2 separate regions of the Homo sapiens genome follow, and region 1 is linked to region 2. The links come from fine-mapping of genetic effects on gene expression. A gene starts in region 2. The other region holds a variant in brackets. All regions are shown on one strand. Distances are from middle to middle.

Evidence for each region. PIP is the estimated chance that this variant, and not a neighbour inherited with it, causes the effect.
Region 1: its variant is fine-mapped to the expression of CCDC175 in tibial artery (GTEx, PIP 0.96).

What each region holds. Positions count from the first base shown.
Region 1 is chr14:59,676,146-59,684,490 of GRCh38, reverse strand. All of the region lies in intron 3 of RTN1 (reticulon 1), which reads left to right. Among named protein-coding and RNA genes, the nearest start is that of MIR5586, 33 kb to the right of the region's middle. The variant T/C (reference allele first, on the strand shown) is at 4,317.
Region 2 is chr14:59,572,584-59,580,928 of GRCh38, reverse strand. CCDC175 (coiled-coil domain containing 175) reads left to right here and starts at 4,117. Exons shown (of 20, transcript NM_001164399.2): 1 at 4,117-4,310; 2 at 5,901-5,986; 3 at 8,116-8,227. The coding sequence starts at 4,154.

The DNA of each region.
Region 1 (8,345 bases), 100 kb before region 2:
AACATGCTTCTTATTTTTATAGAAAATAATATCTAAGTCATGATAATACAATAATTCTGTTTATTGCCATAAATTTTAGAACCATCCTGTGGATAAAGTAGAGAAGTCCTAATTATAACTTTTGAAAAATATGTAAATTGTATAAATCTTGGCAGTAAAAGTAATGTGAAAAATCAGTAACTGGAAAGGATATAAATGATAGTGAAAATGCACTGAAGTTTTTAAATTTTATATAACAGGAACTACCTCAAATTACTAAATCTAGAAATACTTACAAAACAGATCATTTAATTAAATCATAGTAACCACCAGAAGTAAAAAAATAAAAAAAGTTAGAAGAGTGAGGTGAAGGGAGGGAGAATTTAACTTTTAAAAAGCCTTATTCTAATTAAAATTAAAGTCTTTCTCTTTTTGTGATTATAACATTGCAAACAGAAAGTGCACTGTATGTACTTTGCTTGGTCATTAGAAAACTTTAAATGCAGAAGCCTTCTGAGCCTGTGAAAGTCAATCACTAAAATTACTACTTTTAAGGCACTAACTCAAAGGGCAATCCTTGGTAATAAGAATCAGACAAAGACTCTCAAAACACCAGAGTACTCTTCATAGTGAAGAGAGCTGGCGTTGGCAAGAGCTAAAAAACAAAGAAAAGCAAATTAGATGGATCACCAGTTTTCTTTCATGGCAGACAAAAGCCCAAAACTCTTATCTGACTAATAAGGTCAACTACCTGAAACCAAAGATACTAAGGAAATAAGAGAGTAATTCTAAAGCAAGAGAAAGAAGCCCTTCAAGGGACCTACTATGGAGATAGAATACTAAATACTCTATGATCTAACCTTTCAGGAAATAGAAATGAATAAACAGATTTGTAACTTGGCTCACCTGGTTTGAAAAACAAAGAAAGTTTTCAGAAGTTGTGGTAAAAAGCCATCATTTGTGACATTTAATTCTACAGTGAATGGATCTTAGGCAAGTATATTACAAAGTGTTTTGAGACTGGCCAGAGACAAATTCTAACTAAGCTTTTTTTTTTTCAATTTTCTAAAAGAAAGTTAAATGAAAACCAAAAGAAACCCTAGTATTAAATGCCTACTGAATTGACAGATAAAGATGTGTATTGAATCCACGTCATTTCAAATCTGCAAAATGTATTTTCCATGTCAGTTATATTAGAAATGCATATTTCACTTCCCCTATCCCAGGATGATTTGGAAATATTTAGATCAGAAAATAAGTCATTGTGTTAATACACAAAATTAATACTACCTTCATACAACTTTAAATGGATTAATTAACGTATTTTTCAGCTATATAAAAGCAAAGAGTTGATGCCAACTAGTGATTTCCAATAGAAAGAGAACATGAGGTTGAGTCTGGAATAAGCTTCAGTATAGGACCAAAATAATGCGTTAGTAAGGAGAAATGGGATTGGCAGATTCATACATCAACCATAGTGAATGTCACCAAATATCTTGTGTCAGTTGACTTTTAAATATTAACCGAGAACCAAAATGTCACTCCCCTAGGTACAAATCAAATTGCTTCTCCTTTCTTTTGCCTGCACTCTTAAATGCTGAATAACCTCATAAGTAAGATTTCTATTAGGCAAATTAGTGCATGCGTATTAGGAACCACAGTTTCTGGAGTGGAGTTCAGTGGGACTAACTATATTCCCTATGATTAGTCACTTTAATCATAGAATTATGAGGAAACTCATAAATTATCAAATCATATTCTCAAAGCCTTTTTTAGCAATGCTTAACCATGTGCTCTGTAAGTATACATTTGATTTTGTTCCCTAGAGACAATTGTTTCTGTTTTATGAAGTGTGAAACATTACTCATTGGCAATTATGAGTAACTTTTATACTTGTTAAGTTTTATTGTTGTGTTAATGTAAACAGAAACACTTGTGTTTGTTTCCATTTGTTCAATACACATTTATTAGGCATCTACTTTCGCCAGAAGCTGGGAGATACAAAGATGACCATGAGTCAGTTCCTGCCCTCTAGCAATTCAAAGGAGACATAGGTATAAACTTCAACAGCAGGAAAGGCAAGTGGAATCCTTCTGTGGGGGCAGAAGTAGTCTATCTACCCAGCAGCCAGCACAATGCATGGTATAACATTGGATGTGTAATAAATCTTGTTCAAATAAATAAAATAATCATGAGAAGATGTACCAGAAATAGTAATGCCATAAGGAAAGGAAGACAAATGGAGTTGAACCTTGAGCTAAGTCTTGAAATATGGAGCAGGTGAGAGAATTTCAGTTGAAGAAAAGAATGTGTGTAAAGTCCTCAAAGGGTGAAATAGCATGTGATTTCAGGGAATTAGGATAATTCCATTTTTCTGGAAAGTATGTCAGTGGCAAAGCCATGGGAGATGAAGATGGGGAGATGGGAAGGAGCCACATTAAAAAGCACATGCTGGATCTTCTAGCTTCTTAAAGGGTAGCACCATGATCAGATTTATGTTTAGAAAGATTTCTCCATGAGAAGGACAGATTGGTAACCAAAAGGATAGTTAGAAGATCACTAAAAAAATCTAGTGAGCAGTGACGAGGGTCTAAACTATAAACTAAAGCTGTAGCAGCTGAGAGGATGAATTTGGGAGAGATTTGGAAAGTAGAAATCAAGGTTTGAGGGTAGGGGAAGGGAACAGTGAGACAGAAACAGGAATCTGGGATGATCCTTGTGTTCTGATGTGATTAGCTGGATGAAAAAGAAGGCTGCTTAGTGGAACACGATCTGAGAAGGTGATACAGGGAAAATGAGTTCATAGATGCCTAGGAGACATTCAGGAAGATTTATTTAGTAAGCAGTTAGTGACCTGAACCTGGAACTCAAGAGCTAGGTCCAGGCTGGAGATTCAGAGCTGGTGGTACCCATGTCTGGTGGTAACTATGAGCATGAGTGAGAGAGCCCAGTGGAGAATACAGAGTATTAGTGACCCAGATTCATTATTTCCCAGTGCCTACTGCAGTGTGTGGTTTGGGGATGGAATTGATATGACACTCATCATTGATAATCATTATTGGAGCTAGAAAAAAGGGTTGAAAAAATAGTATGGAGAACATTTTGGCATTTTCAAATTACCATTTTTTAAGATTCAGAATGATTTTCTATTGAGAGACAGTTACTCATGGAATAAAACATATGAATCAAGAACCAAGTAAATTAAAAGCAAAGTAACTGACTTGTTTTTGTTAGAGGAAATATATGTTCATATGTCTAAATTAAGAATTGTTCATAGCAAATAATGCTTGGTAAGTTTTTGTTGGATTTGTACATGTGGAAATCTAAGATGTATTTAATAAATATGGAAATAATAAAATAGATTTGTAGTTTTATGAGCACTTAGATGAAAAGAGAAGCAGAGAAAAAAGAGAAAATGGGAAATAGAGATAGACACACACATACTATTAATATAGAAACTTATAAAAGACAAAATAACTGTAATCCATAATTCAACCACCACTGTCAAAATTTCAACATATATTCTATTATTATGTCTGTACATATTTTTGTATACTTGTTATGTTGGCTGTATAAATTCATATACTTCTTTTTTTAACTTGATATGATAAACATTTTCCCAAGTTATTAAAAACTCTTCATAAATATGGTTTTTCATGACAGCATAAAGATGCCTATCACTTTTCAGTTACTTAGTTACACATTCTCTATTGTTCAACATTTAGATTTTAGCTTTAAAAAACTTTAAATACCACTCCATTGAGTATCTTTGTTTATAAGGCTTTGTGTTCATTTCAAATTATTTTCTTGAGATAGATTTCTGGAAATAGAATTACCATACTAAAACATATGAACATTTTAAGGCTCCTATTGCCAAATTGTGTTTTAGAAAGATGATACAAATGTATACTTCCATCAGCTTTATGTGGCAATGCCTGGACACACTAAATAATACAGCATGCTATAAAGCCTTGTATTTGGGTTCATTGGGAAATTGGTAATTGGCACTAACCTTGTATTTTATTCAGTGAATTCACTGATTAGCTCAAATTAGTAAAGATAGACTTATTGTAAACAATGACAACTATCTCCTTTTTTATTTAACTTTTATGCAAAATAACTTTAAAATGGAATTCAAAACACACTTCCCTATATTTTGCATGGTTTCACTTGGAAATACTTCTCCAGAAGGAAAGAAATGCTTCTCTAACTGGTATGGAGGGAAAGAGGGATTGCTCTTTCCTTTTTAGTACTATTAAGCAACAATTGTCTATTTTGGAGGAGGTTTATGACTTCTTTCAAAAACAAAGTATCCCATTTTTTCCCCAGAGCAAAGC[T/C]CTTAGAAGGCAATAGCTAAGAGCTATGTTACTAACATGATTGTTCTAGGAGGAGCACTGCTCAGCTCCCATGGCAACAGGTACCATGGAAATAGACACACTTTGTCAGAGGTATTGTAAATGCTATTGGGTATGAGGGCAGTAGTTGCAGTGAAATTTCATTGTTGCTATGTTGTAGAGGTTGCACAACACACCAAGCCTTATTTAGATTCTGTTGATAAGTCTGACCTGGTTTTTAAGAAGTTCTATTTTTTTAAAAAAGAAAAACAAACCCCAACCCCCAACCTGTTAGACCTAAGATAAAATGAGAACAATTTGCAAGGTTCAAATTGTTCTGTATGGAAGCTCTGGAAAATTATATGCAAGTCTGTATGGAAGCTCTGGAAAATTATGATATTTCAGAGAACTGTGAACTTTGAAGTGTCTGTGGCAATAAGTGATAGGTTGAGTGTGAATAACTTAAATCCAGAAGTCATCCCCAGACTTCATTTGAGCTAAACAGTTCAGCTTCTTCTCATAGGTCAGGTCACTGTTAATTTTTGCAGTGACAATGATTAACAATGAAATTATTAAGAGTGATTACTAATATAACACCTGTTTTGTACTCTGCTGTTTTACTGTTCAACCCTTTTTAATAACCATTAAAAGGTACCTATGACTAGTACTATAAGCAGATTCATCCCACAGTTGGGGAAATTAAGGCATAGAGAAGAAATAAAGACCTCATGGTCTTAGCTGGAGAGAGGTAGAGTCTGGATTGAGAAAAGTTAGAGCTCCAGTCTCTAGCCTTATTTTACAAACATTGATACAATGGTAAAGATGAAACCTAAGTCAAAGGGTGTATGGGTTATCATTGGTGGCTCTGTTTGTTTAATAGATAACTCAATTTAGCAGAGAGGGCTGTACTATTGTTTCATTTCAGAGCACCTGTGCAACTTCTGATGCTTAAGAGGGAAATTGAGAATACTTCTCTAATTCATACCCAAGCCACCCTAACAATTACACATGATAATACTCAATACAAAATGTCAAGTTAGGGATTATCTTGGCCTTTTTCTAGTAGATTCCTACCTGTTCCCAGTCTTTTCCAGACACTGTCATCCCTCACAATCCAATCTGTCACTCTGCCAGGAGCCAAGAGGATTCAGATGCTATCCCTTGCTTTTTGAAATCACAGTTGAACTCAAGAACCCAACAGAGTTAGATACTAAGACCCTGCACCTGTATCTATGGTCCTTAAACTTATATGTGCATAAGAATTACCTGGATAGCCTGTTAAAAATGTACATTCTCAGCTTCCCATTCTGACTAAGTAAGCCTGGGGTGAGGCCCAGGAAGCTGCATTTTTAACCAACTCCCCCAGTGCTTCTGAAGCAGGTGGTCTGTGGTCACGCTTTGAGAAACCTGAAGATCAGCATGTCAGTCTGTTAAAGTCTCTTCCACACCAGTGAGCCTAAGGACAATGGGGACAGTGGAGGTTGAGGAAGGGGCAGTAGTGAGAAGGGAGGCCTGTACCTCTGTGCCTGGGAGCCCAGCAAGGAACCTTCAGCTCTTGAGGTCCCAACATGTGCTGTGGCCCACGCTGGACCTCAGTATGTGGGAAAAAGCAACCAGCTTTCAGAATTCACAAAGGATGAGGCACAAGGTAGAGAAACAGGGATGCTGCAATCTGCAATCTGAGTGCGCTGGCCCCTGAGTCAGTAAGAGTTGTCTGTAGATACCTAAATGTTTAAATCAATTTTCTTCTCTCAGACAGTGGAATCCAGAACATATATTAAAAAGAGACCACTTCCAGCCTGTAGGAAAAATGAAGTTTTGTAGCTCATTGATGGCTTCTTTCTTGCTGTTAGGAAGGCCAAGCCAGAGAAGCTAAAATGATTGAGCTAGGCCATTTTCGCATTAGCATTCAACCCTTAAATAAAACTTTGGAGAAAAGACCCCTTTTCACATTCCCCACGCACCCCTACCACCACTGCCTAAGCTTTGGCAGCCTTCCAAATCCTCCAGACCCCAGAACAGGACTTGTCCCTGGGCTTGTTTTCCAGGGTTTATATGACGCCCTTGTTCCCTTCTTGGCAATTCAAGTGAAACTCACCATCTCAGGCCACAGCGTGGTAGTCATTGTTGTAAATAGCTTTGACTATTTATTTTTCTAAAATGCCTAGAATAGCATTTAGATGCCAAGATCCTGGGAGTGAGAAAAGAATGTTATTTTTGTAAGAAAGACTATTTTAGGGGACTGTTCTAACATTAAGAGACAGAAATGGGCCATGTGGTTTGCTAGGAAATTTCCTTGCAAAGCTAAAATCCACATTACTGCCTTTCATGACTGGGGTAGTTAGTCACTTTCTCACTTTATTTTAAATGAGGTCATGATTCCTGAGTTATTGTCACCTTTGGAAGCTAGAAGGATGGGTAAGTGCCAAGTGCTTTGAATCTACTCAAGAGAAAGCCAACGTACAATGGTTTTCCATTTACCTGTAGAAGGCAGGTCCATATCATCTTTGAAAAAATAATTACGCCTGTTCTTTGCATCTCCCGCCTCAGGACCAGAATTTGTGTTTGTTTAGTGATGAAAAGTCTCCAATATTAATATTAATCTTTTTGTTTGTTCTGTTTCCTTTGCCATCATGCTCTGTCCACTTACTGCAGTATTTGACTCCTTGAGATACATTTCAAATCATAAATCTCTCCTCATGGCTCCTTAAAAAAGTGAATCTTTCTCGTGTCCCTACTTTCTTGTGTCCCTACTTACTATTTTTATTACCAGATTATAACCATGATTTCCTCATTGACCACAGCAGTGGGGTACCAGCATCCCTGGAAAAAGATGTCTTGAATATCCTACAATGAATATCAAATGGAGAGAGCCTCTGCCTGTTCAAGGCTGAAAATCTGAGAAAAATAAAACTCACGTTGCTTTTTAAATTCAGAGATGTGACCACTGTGAATGTATTGCATCAACATAAGTCAAATATTGGTACCTATGGGTATAGAAGGATTCAAAGGCTGGGGTCCTGGAAGAAGAGGGTCAGAAAGCATCAGAAGGAGGAAGAGCAAGACTTGCAGACAACCCTGAGGTGGGAGCCAGCTCCCCTCACTCAGAAAGTGTGGGCTGGTACACCCGATAGGAATGGAGCAGGGCGCACATGGAGATTTGGGGTGAGCTCTCCTTTCCTAAGTAGGGTACACTGACAATGATCAATCTGTTCCCATCATCTGAACTTATAATGCCTTCCCAGAAAACCTCTTTGGGCTACCATCATACCTCTTAGAGAACAAGCATATATCTAAGCCTCATCACTTTTCAATGCTGCGGTTATTTCTGATGTTTCCTGGATTTAAGAAGTAGTGGTTTACTATTTTTTCAGTGTTTAAGAATGACCTTAGAAACCCGTTAAAGTGCATATGCTAGGGCTTCATCCCCAGCAATTCTGATTTGATTGATTGGGGATGGATCCAGAAATTTTTATTTTTAGTGAGTATACTGAATTATTTTAAAGAAGATAGTTAGGTTAGCAGAGCTACTCTTTGCTTCTTTTTACTTCCACCTTTCATGTTGTCCTGCCTCCTCTTTGATCAATACATACTATGTTTTTGCATGTGCCCTTTGCCCTCAAAAGTCTTTTCCAATCATCGATTAGGTAGGTATCATCTAAGCTTGGGTTTCTCACATAATTTCGTTAATGCTTCTTTGCTTCAAATTTTGACTTACCTTTAAGGCCATATAACTACTGATACTTAATTGAACCTGTTCTCTAATTGCCACCACTGCAGTTACAAATGATGATGATGATATTTTCAAGGTTATTTATTTATATCACAGAAAAGAACAGTAGCACTTGCTATATACTTAGAGCTTTCTGAGGATCAGCTATACACATAAGACACTGACTCATTAATTTTTACAGCTTCTGTGCAAAAACTAGCTAAAATTGCTTTCCACTTCAAGTTGAAGACAGTTAGTCATAAGTATACATTCCAGCATTAATTTTTTTCCTATTAACTTTGATGCATAAGGTTTATTTA
Region 2 (8,345 bases):
AAATACTGCCTGAAAGATAAATGTATCTGTTTGTGTTACCAAAGTAAAAATACATGAGAAAAGGACATGCATTTTGGCCAAGTGCACACCAGCTGTAAGTAGTGAAGGCTGAGAAATCTTTTTTTATGTGTCCATTATTTCTAAAGTTTCCTATGGCTGCTGTTACAAATTACCACAAACTTAGTGGCTTAAAACAATACAAATTTATTGTTTTAAGTAAAGCAAATTTAAAAGTAAAACAATACTTAAATGTATTGTTTTACCATTTTGGAGGTCAGAAGTTCAAAATGAGTCTTTCTTAGTGAAAATCAAGATGTCAGCAAGGCTGAATTCTCTCTGGAGGGTCTAAGGGAGAATCTGTTTCCTTGCCTTTTCTAGTTTCCAGAGACCACCTGCATTCCTTGGTTCATGGTCCCCTTCCTCCATCTTCAAAACTAGCGGCTTAGCATCTTCAAATCTTTCTCTGACTTTGATATTGACTCTCCTGCCTCCACCTTTCAGTTATAAGAACTCTTGTGGCCAGGCGCAGTGGTTCATGCCTGTAATCCCAGCACTTTGGGAGGCCAAGGCAGACGGATCACCTAAGGTCAGGAGTTCAAGACCAGCCTGGGAAACACAGGGAAACCCCATCTCTACTAAAAATACAAAAATTAGCTGGGCGTGGTGGCGGGTGCCTGTAATCCTAGCTACTCAGGAGGCTGAGGCAGGAGAATCACTTGAACCCAGGAGGCGGAGGTTGCAGGGAGCCAAGATGGCGCCACTGCACTCCAGCCTGGGTGACAAGAGTGAGACTCCGTCTCAAAAAAAAAACAAAAAACAACAACAAAAAAAACAACTCTTGTGATTACATTGGGCCCACCTGGACAATCTAGGCTACTTTCCTCATCTCGGAGTTTACTGATTAACAATCTTAGTTTCCTCTACAACCTTAATTACCCCTTACCAGGTAACCTAATATATTCACAAGTCTCAGGGATTAGGATGTGGACATTTTGAGGAGGCATTATTTTACCTATTACATCTATAATTTCACTAACCAGGAATAACTACAGGTAACATTTTAGTGAACAATTCTTCTCAGACCATTTTCTATGCATATGTTTATAGAGATATACCTATATACATCTCTATAGATATATGGACTTGTAAAAATTAAATATTAATTGAATACTGTACATTTCTTTTTCAACTTGCTTTTCCCACTTTATACATATGTATGTGTATGTACATGTAAATTTCTACCCATTATTCTTAATAGGTACCCTATTATTACTTTATCATTAGTGTTTTTTAAGTATCTACCATGTGCTCACTTAATTTAATCCTTTGAACAATCCTATGAACTGAGAACTCCTATCACCGTCACCACCCCTTTAGAGCTGAGACACTGGCAGCATGAGCTGGGAGGCTGTCTCAGGAGATACTCCATCCAATCAGTAGTGGAACGCATTTAAATCCACCAGAACCCAAGCTCTTAACCACATGGCGGATTGCCTTCTAGATTGTTCCACTGCATGGATGTCCCATAAATTACTTAACAACAGTGTCCTACTGTAGATCATTTGGGCTATTTTTCAGTATTTAAAACAGGACTGCAATAAACAAGTTCATACCTATGCCCATGGACAAACCTGTGATTATTTCTTTAAGAACAATTCTTAGAAGAATTACTGTATGTCAAGGCTCCTTACACAAATTTCCAAATTGTCCTTCAGATAGTATGCATATTCCCAGTGTCAATACTTTGAAGTATTATTCTTTTTAATCTTAATATTATGAGAAAATGAGAGTATTATTTTTCTTTGAATGCTAATGAGGGTAAATGTTCTTTCCGTATGTTTCTCGGAATTTTTTTTCTTTTATTAAGTGATGATTCATGTTGTTTGCCTAGATTTCTATTTCAGAATTTATAAAGTTTCCTTTGAAAAATTGTGGTTGAATTTTGTACAGGGCATCCCATATAAAAGGAACCATGAGACAAGTTAGAAGCTGATCATCTCTCACAAAATATTTAATTTATAAAAATTAAATATTAATTGAATACTGTACGTTTCTTTTTCAACTTGCTTTTCCCACTTTATACATATGTATGTGTATGTACATGTAACTTTCTCACAAAGTTCAGGGAAAAAGAAAGTATTAGAGACATGAAGGGAAATAGAGAAATGTAAGAAAATCTGTAACAAATCCAGTAAGTGGGGAGGACACAAAATGCCCCCTTAAGATTAGCCTTTATTCATAGATAATGGAGAGCAATGTGATCCAAATGATGCGATATGTAAGAAGAGTCTTCTGGTGACAGCTTAAGGGTTGCCTTGAAGTAGTCCAGTCTAGATATTTCCAGAAGAGAGAAGTATATCACAAGGAATTTGTTACAAGGGGTATAGAAGCCAAAGGGTAAGAAGATAAAGAAGACCCCAGACATCAGAGCTGCCATAACACCTGTACTGTACGCACAAGCTCACATATAGTGCTGAGCAGCTGGAGACTGCTGGAGTCACTTGGCTCCTACTCCTGCCACTTCTAGAGCCACCAAAACTGCTGGGACCTACAGTCAACTGTAGCCTGAAACTACCACTTCTGGAGGCAGAAATGCATGATTTCTCGGCCTTCTAATCTCCCTCAAGTGTTTCCCATTAGTGGAACTTACCAAGAAAACAGGTGGCAAGGACATCCAGGAAATTTCATATCCAGTCTTCTTACTCCTGCCACACAGAGGAGGGCCCAGAAGGGCAGGAACAGATTTGAATACCAATAGACCAAATCCAGCAAAAAAGGAGGATGTTGTCCAGGATGGTTTCCAACACCAAAATATGGCACTCCCTGGATGAAGGAGGCCTGGATTCTAGAACTAGTTCTGCTACTGGTATGCTGTGTCCCCTCCAAGGCAGTGTTGCACAGTGGTTTAGGATGTAGCTCAGTGCCCTCACTTGCAAAGCAGGCAATAATACCTAGCTCAAAAGATTATTTGTGAGGGTTAAATGGGGTACTGCAAAGTATTTAAAACAGTGCCTGGAACAAAATAAGCATTTAACAATTGATAGCTATTGTCATTGTTACTATCATTCTAATTTCAATTTTGCCATCTGTAGAGAAAAGAAGAGGAGGGTTGAATCACCTTTGCTTCTCTCTAACCCACCAGAGGAAAAGGAACTGACAGACTCAACCTAAGCCTCATGCTAAGCTGAATTTTGGAGATGCAGAGAAAAATGAATAATATCCTCCTGTCCCCGTCATCACAGAGCTCACAGTTCGATGGGAAGACAGAGAAAAATCACTATGATTCAAGGCAAAATGTGCTCAGTGATGTACTAGATACAAGGAAAGTTCTAAATTAGTACAAAAGAAGGTTTTGTAGCATAGTAGAAAGAGTCATACAGACTTCACTTTATTATTTTATTTTATTATTTTGAGATGGAGTTTAGCTCTTGTCGCCCAGGCTGGAGTGCAATGGCGAGATCTCGGTTCACTATAACCTTTTCCTCCCGGGTTCAAGCGATTGTCCTGCCTCAGCCTCCTGAGTAGCTGGGACTACAGGCACGCGCCACCACGCCCGGCTAATTTTTGTATTTTTAGTAGAGATGGGGTTTCACCATGTTGATTAGGCTGGTTTTGAATTCATGACCACAGGTGATCCTCCCGCCTTGGCCTCCCAAAGTGCTGGGACTACAGGCGTGAGCCACCTCGCCCGGCCCAGACGTCACTTTAAATCCAATATTATCCTCTTGTGGTCTTGAGCCGTTCATTTAGTCGCCCGCGCCTCAGTTTACGTGTCTGTAAAAGTGGAGGTACTAAAAGAGCCTGCTCACAAAGTCCTTGTGAAGATTAAGTGAGCTACTGTATATAAAGGTTCTCCTGCAGTATCCGGCACAAAGATGCGCTCAAAAGTGATCATTATTATGATTCCAGTGGCCCACAAAAAAGATACAGGCCTGAACTAACGCAATGGAAATTGAAAGGGGAAAAATTAGCTAAAGAGAGAGTCATTCTTCCCAGACTGCTTAATTATCGTGGATAAAATTAGAGAACCAGGAGGGTACCTACTAGAGGTGCGGGCCACGAGGGGGCGCCCCACGACCTCGGTGTCCTCGTTGCCCGTGGCAACCGGCAATCCTTGGCTCTGGCTTAGGAGGCGCTCAAGTAGAGCGGCAAAATGGCCCTGAGCCCCTGGACCCCAGGGCTGGGCGCTGGCGAGAAGCTGGTGCAGGCGGCTGCCGTCTCCACTGGCCCCTCCCTGGAGTTATGCACCTTACCCTCCACCCTGGGCTCCTCGGTCGCGGTCGAGGCGCTGGAGCAGCTGTTTGTTGTGGGTAAGACGCCCCTCGGGCGCTGGAAGGGACGTCTCCTCAGAGGTGGCGCTTAGGAGGCACTCAGCGGGAACCCTGAGCGGGGACTCTCCTCCCGGAACCAGGGCATCACTGGGCAGGGCAGAGCCTTCTCCCCGCTCCTTGGAGGCTGGGGAGAGAGAGGTGGCGGGTGGGACCAAGTGCCCAGATCTCCTGCCCTAGCGCAGCTGAGGTGACTTCGCTCAACCCTCAGTAGTAGTTAAATTACTGAGGTGACAAATCCGGGACTCCCAAGCCACTGCCCTATGCCTGCGACCTGATTACACACCTGCATTTAGATTATGCCTTCGATTTCAGTTCTCTTCTTGCCGTTCCTTTACAAGTTAACTTCCTCCGACATTTTGCCGTGGCAAACTGGAGAATTTAACAAGCAAATAGGAAAGGGAGTGTTTAAGAGGCTTCTGTTGTGTTGAGCAAGAAAAATTAGATGTAAAGGGTTGTTTAGGAGATTCTAATAGAAAATGACCTTGGATAGGGCCAGGTTAAAGTATTTTTCAGTTAGAAAGCTGAACCTGTAATCAAGTCACTTAAGCTTAAGGTAAGACAATCCAAGAAAGGGTGTTTCTTGTTCGGTGCAAAAACCGTTTAGGCCAAACAACAAAACATTTCAGTGCTTCACTAGAATCATCCCATTTCTTCAAGATAATCGTATTGATTTATGTTACAATGTTACTATTAATTTGGGATAGTTTTTATTTTCCTTCTTAAATGCGCTAGGTTAATTTCACAATTCTTAGCAAATATGCTTGGGTAAATGTTATCATGAAGAATGTTGGCCGGGCGCGGTGGCTCATGTCTGTAATCCCAGCACTTTGGGAGGCCGAGGCGGGTGGATACCTGAGGTCAGGAGTTTGAGACCAGCCTGGCCAACATGGTGAAACCCCGTCTCTACTAAAAATACAAAAATTAGCCGGGCGTGGTGACGCACGTCTGTAATCCCAGCTACTCGGGAGGCTGAGGCAGGAGAATCCGTTGAACTCAGAAGGCAGAGGTTGTGGTGAGCCGAGATGGTGCCACTGCACTCCAGCCTGCGCGACAGAGCGAGACTCCGTCTCAAAAAAAAAAAAAAAAAAAAAAGGAATGTTACCCACTGAGGAGACCTAAAGTTATTAAGACCTAAATTATTCACATGTATCTGAGGTCACTGTCAATGACAGACCTAGAACCTTGAACTCTTTTCATACTTGATCTCTAGATCGGCATGCCAATGCAACCCTAGTACTTATGTACAAATACATTTTTCTGTTAATGTCTAGACACTCAGAACATATTTCATAGGAAAAAAAAATCATTACACCCTCTTGCCCTGAGTTATAAAATATTAATATGTAAATCTCCAGCACATTTGTCCTCAAGGAGCATAAAATATATACCTAAATTATAACATTATGGAATAGGAAATAAGTACAAAAGAGATTAGTGTAATGTACAATAAAAATTCAGAGACTGAAGATGTAACTTCCAGCCGAGTAAGCATTTGAGCTAGATCATAAAAGGTTAAGTAGGATTTGGATAGATAAATAAGAGATCTTTATTTTCTAATTTTTTTTTCAGAACAATCACTGCAAAGTGACTATTTTAAATGTAATGAAGAAGCTAAGATCTTTCTTAAGGACATTGCTGTAGCTGTTAAGAAATTGGTATTGTATTATCTATAAGAACCATTTCTTCAATCTTCCACATATTTCTTCAAACTTTCATTTCGCACCAATTCTGTTCAAAGTATTAAGTAGATGACTAGGGAATATAGTTACCCTGAACTTAAAAATATTTTTCTCTCAATTTTGTAAGGATTTGCACAATTATTGATCAACTGTGGATTGTTACTTGATTTTCCATGAAGAAAACTAAATTATGGGCTTATGGCTGTGGATGAGGGCAAGCTCATTTAGAGAAAGCAATGTGGGTGATAATACGGTTCAGTTAAGAGGTGGACCACATGGGCAAATGCTTGGGACACCAATATATAAGCATTGCTTAAAACAAACAAACACACAATCTCTGGAATAAATTGCAAGCATGGTGCTAATTAACTCAGTTCTCTGTAAGCAATTCCTTGCATAACTGGTCAAAGATTATTTGACATATGTTCCACTGAAGTAGACGGTACTGTTAGTGAAAACAAAGAGAAACTCTTTCAATTACACTTAACTGGCCCCTATCAAAGACATGTTGAAGAAATATTTAAAGAATTTCCTTCTGAGGTGTCACAGACATCTCTGTTCGGCCAAGGATCACATTGACAATGCTTCCTTGGCACAGTCAGAGTAGTGAAGGCTCTCCATTTTATTTAAAAATATTGGATAAGAATTTACTACATATCAAATTGCTAAAAATGTTGAAATATGGCTGTAAATGAGTTTGAATCCACAGACTGCTGATAAAACTCTTACTACTTTATATTTTATATAATTATACACATATATATATCTATACTACATAATCATACTTTACAATCCTACTTGAGTAGGTACACGTAAACACTGAGGGATCATGTGTGTTGTGCAGCTCTGTGGTGCTGTGAAAACATTTTTCCCTGCTTGGTTCTTTCTTTCAGTTATGTCTTTCGCTAGGATTTTAAGAGGCCAAAATATTTATTGTGGTTAAAGTATCTAGTCTGTATTCATTTAATATCTGAGCCGTGAAATCTCTTAAACAACAGAGATCAGGCTGGGTATGGTGGCTCACGCCTGTAATCCCAGCACTCCGGGAGGCCAGGATGGGTGGATCACTTGAGGTCAGGAGTCTGAGACTAGCCTGGCCGAGACATGGTGAAACTCCATCTCTACTAAAAATACAAAAATTAGCCTGGCAAGGTGGCGGGAGCCTGTAATCCTAGCTACTTGGGAGGCTTGTAGGAGAATTGCTTGAAACCAGGAGGCAGAGGTTACAGTGAGCTGAGATTGACCCACTGCACTCCAGACTGGTCAACAGAGTGAGATTCCATCTCAAAAAAAAAAAAAACAAAAAAACAAAAAACCAGATCAATCCTTTTATTTTTAAAAGTAATACATGTTGACTTTGAAAAATTAAGAAAAAATAGATAAGCAAAAGGACCACATTAAAATAATCACTATTAATGCTGATGAATATACTTTCTATTTTCAGGGTATAGGTGATAACTGCATTGAATTTCATTTTTTACAGAAAAGTGATGATGCTATATATGTAATTATATAGTCTGCTTTTTATAATTCATAAAATATAATGGCAGTTTCTCAGGTCATAAAATAGCTATAGCTATTATGACAGTTTATTTAAAAGATGATTTATCTATTTTTTCCCACCAACTGATTTCTTAGCAGTGTTTCCTTTCTTAAAGTAGCCTCAGCTAAAAGTAATAATAACAGCTTTACCTACTTGTTTGGGTTTGTAGGTGTGTATGAGAAAACCATTTTTTTTATACCTAAGCATATTTTTATAGGCAATTTCCATATTTTAATAAGTAGCTTTCTTTCTCAATATTACTATTTTTGTTAGTCTTTCCTTTTAAATGGATTGAAACTGCATATAAGAAACAGATACTCATAAAGAAAAGATAATTTCTCAGTAGAATAAAATCAATAGAAATTAAGAGATAAACTAACAGACACCTTAAATAGTGATTGTAGATACTTTTCCCAGTTTCTGTTCCAAATAAAAATAATGGCAGAAGATATTTAGTGAAATTATATTTTGACCCCTGAAAACATTTGTAGGGCATTGTTTAGGAAATCAATCTTACTATTTTAGTGTCTTAACTTTTTAAAAATGTAATTTAAATTTTCAGGAAGAAATGAGAAAAGCCACAATCGATCTTTTGGAGATTGAAAGCATGGAACTCAACAAACTATACTATCTATTGGAAACTCTTCCCAATAGCATTAAGAGGGAATTGGAAGGTACTTTTGAGGTTATCAACTCTAGAAATTTAGTTGATCTTATAACAGAATGAAGTACTTTCAACAAGATAAGTTTCATAGTTATTGCTCATGTAAGATAGAGCTAGAAAGCATACAT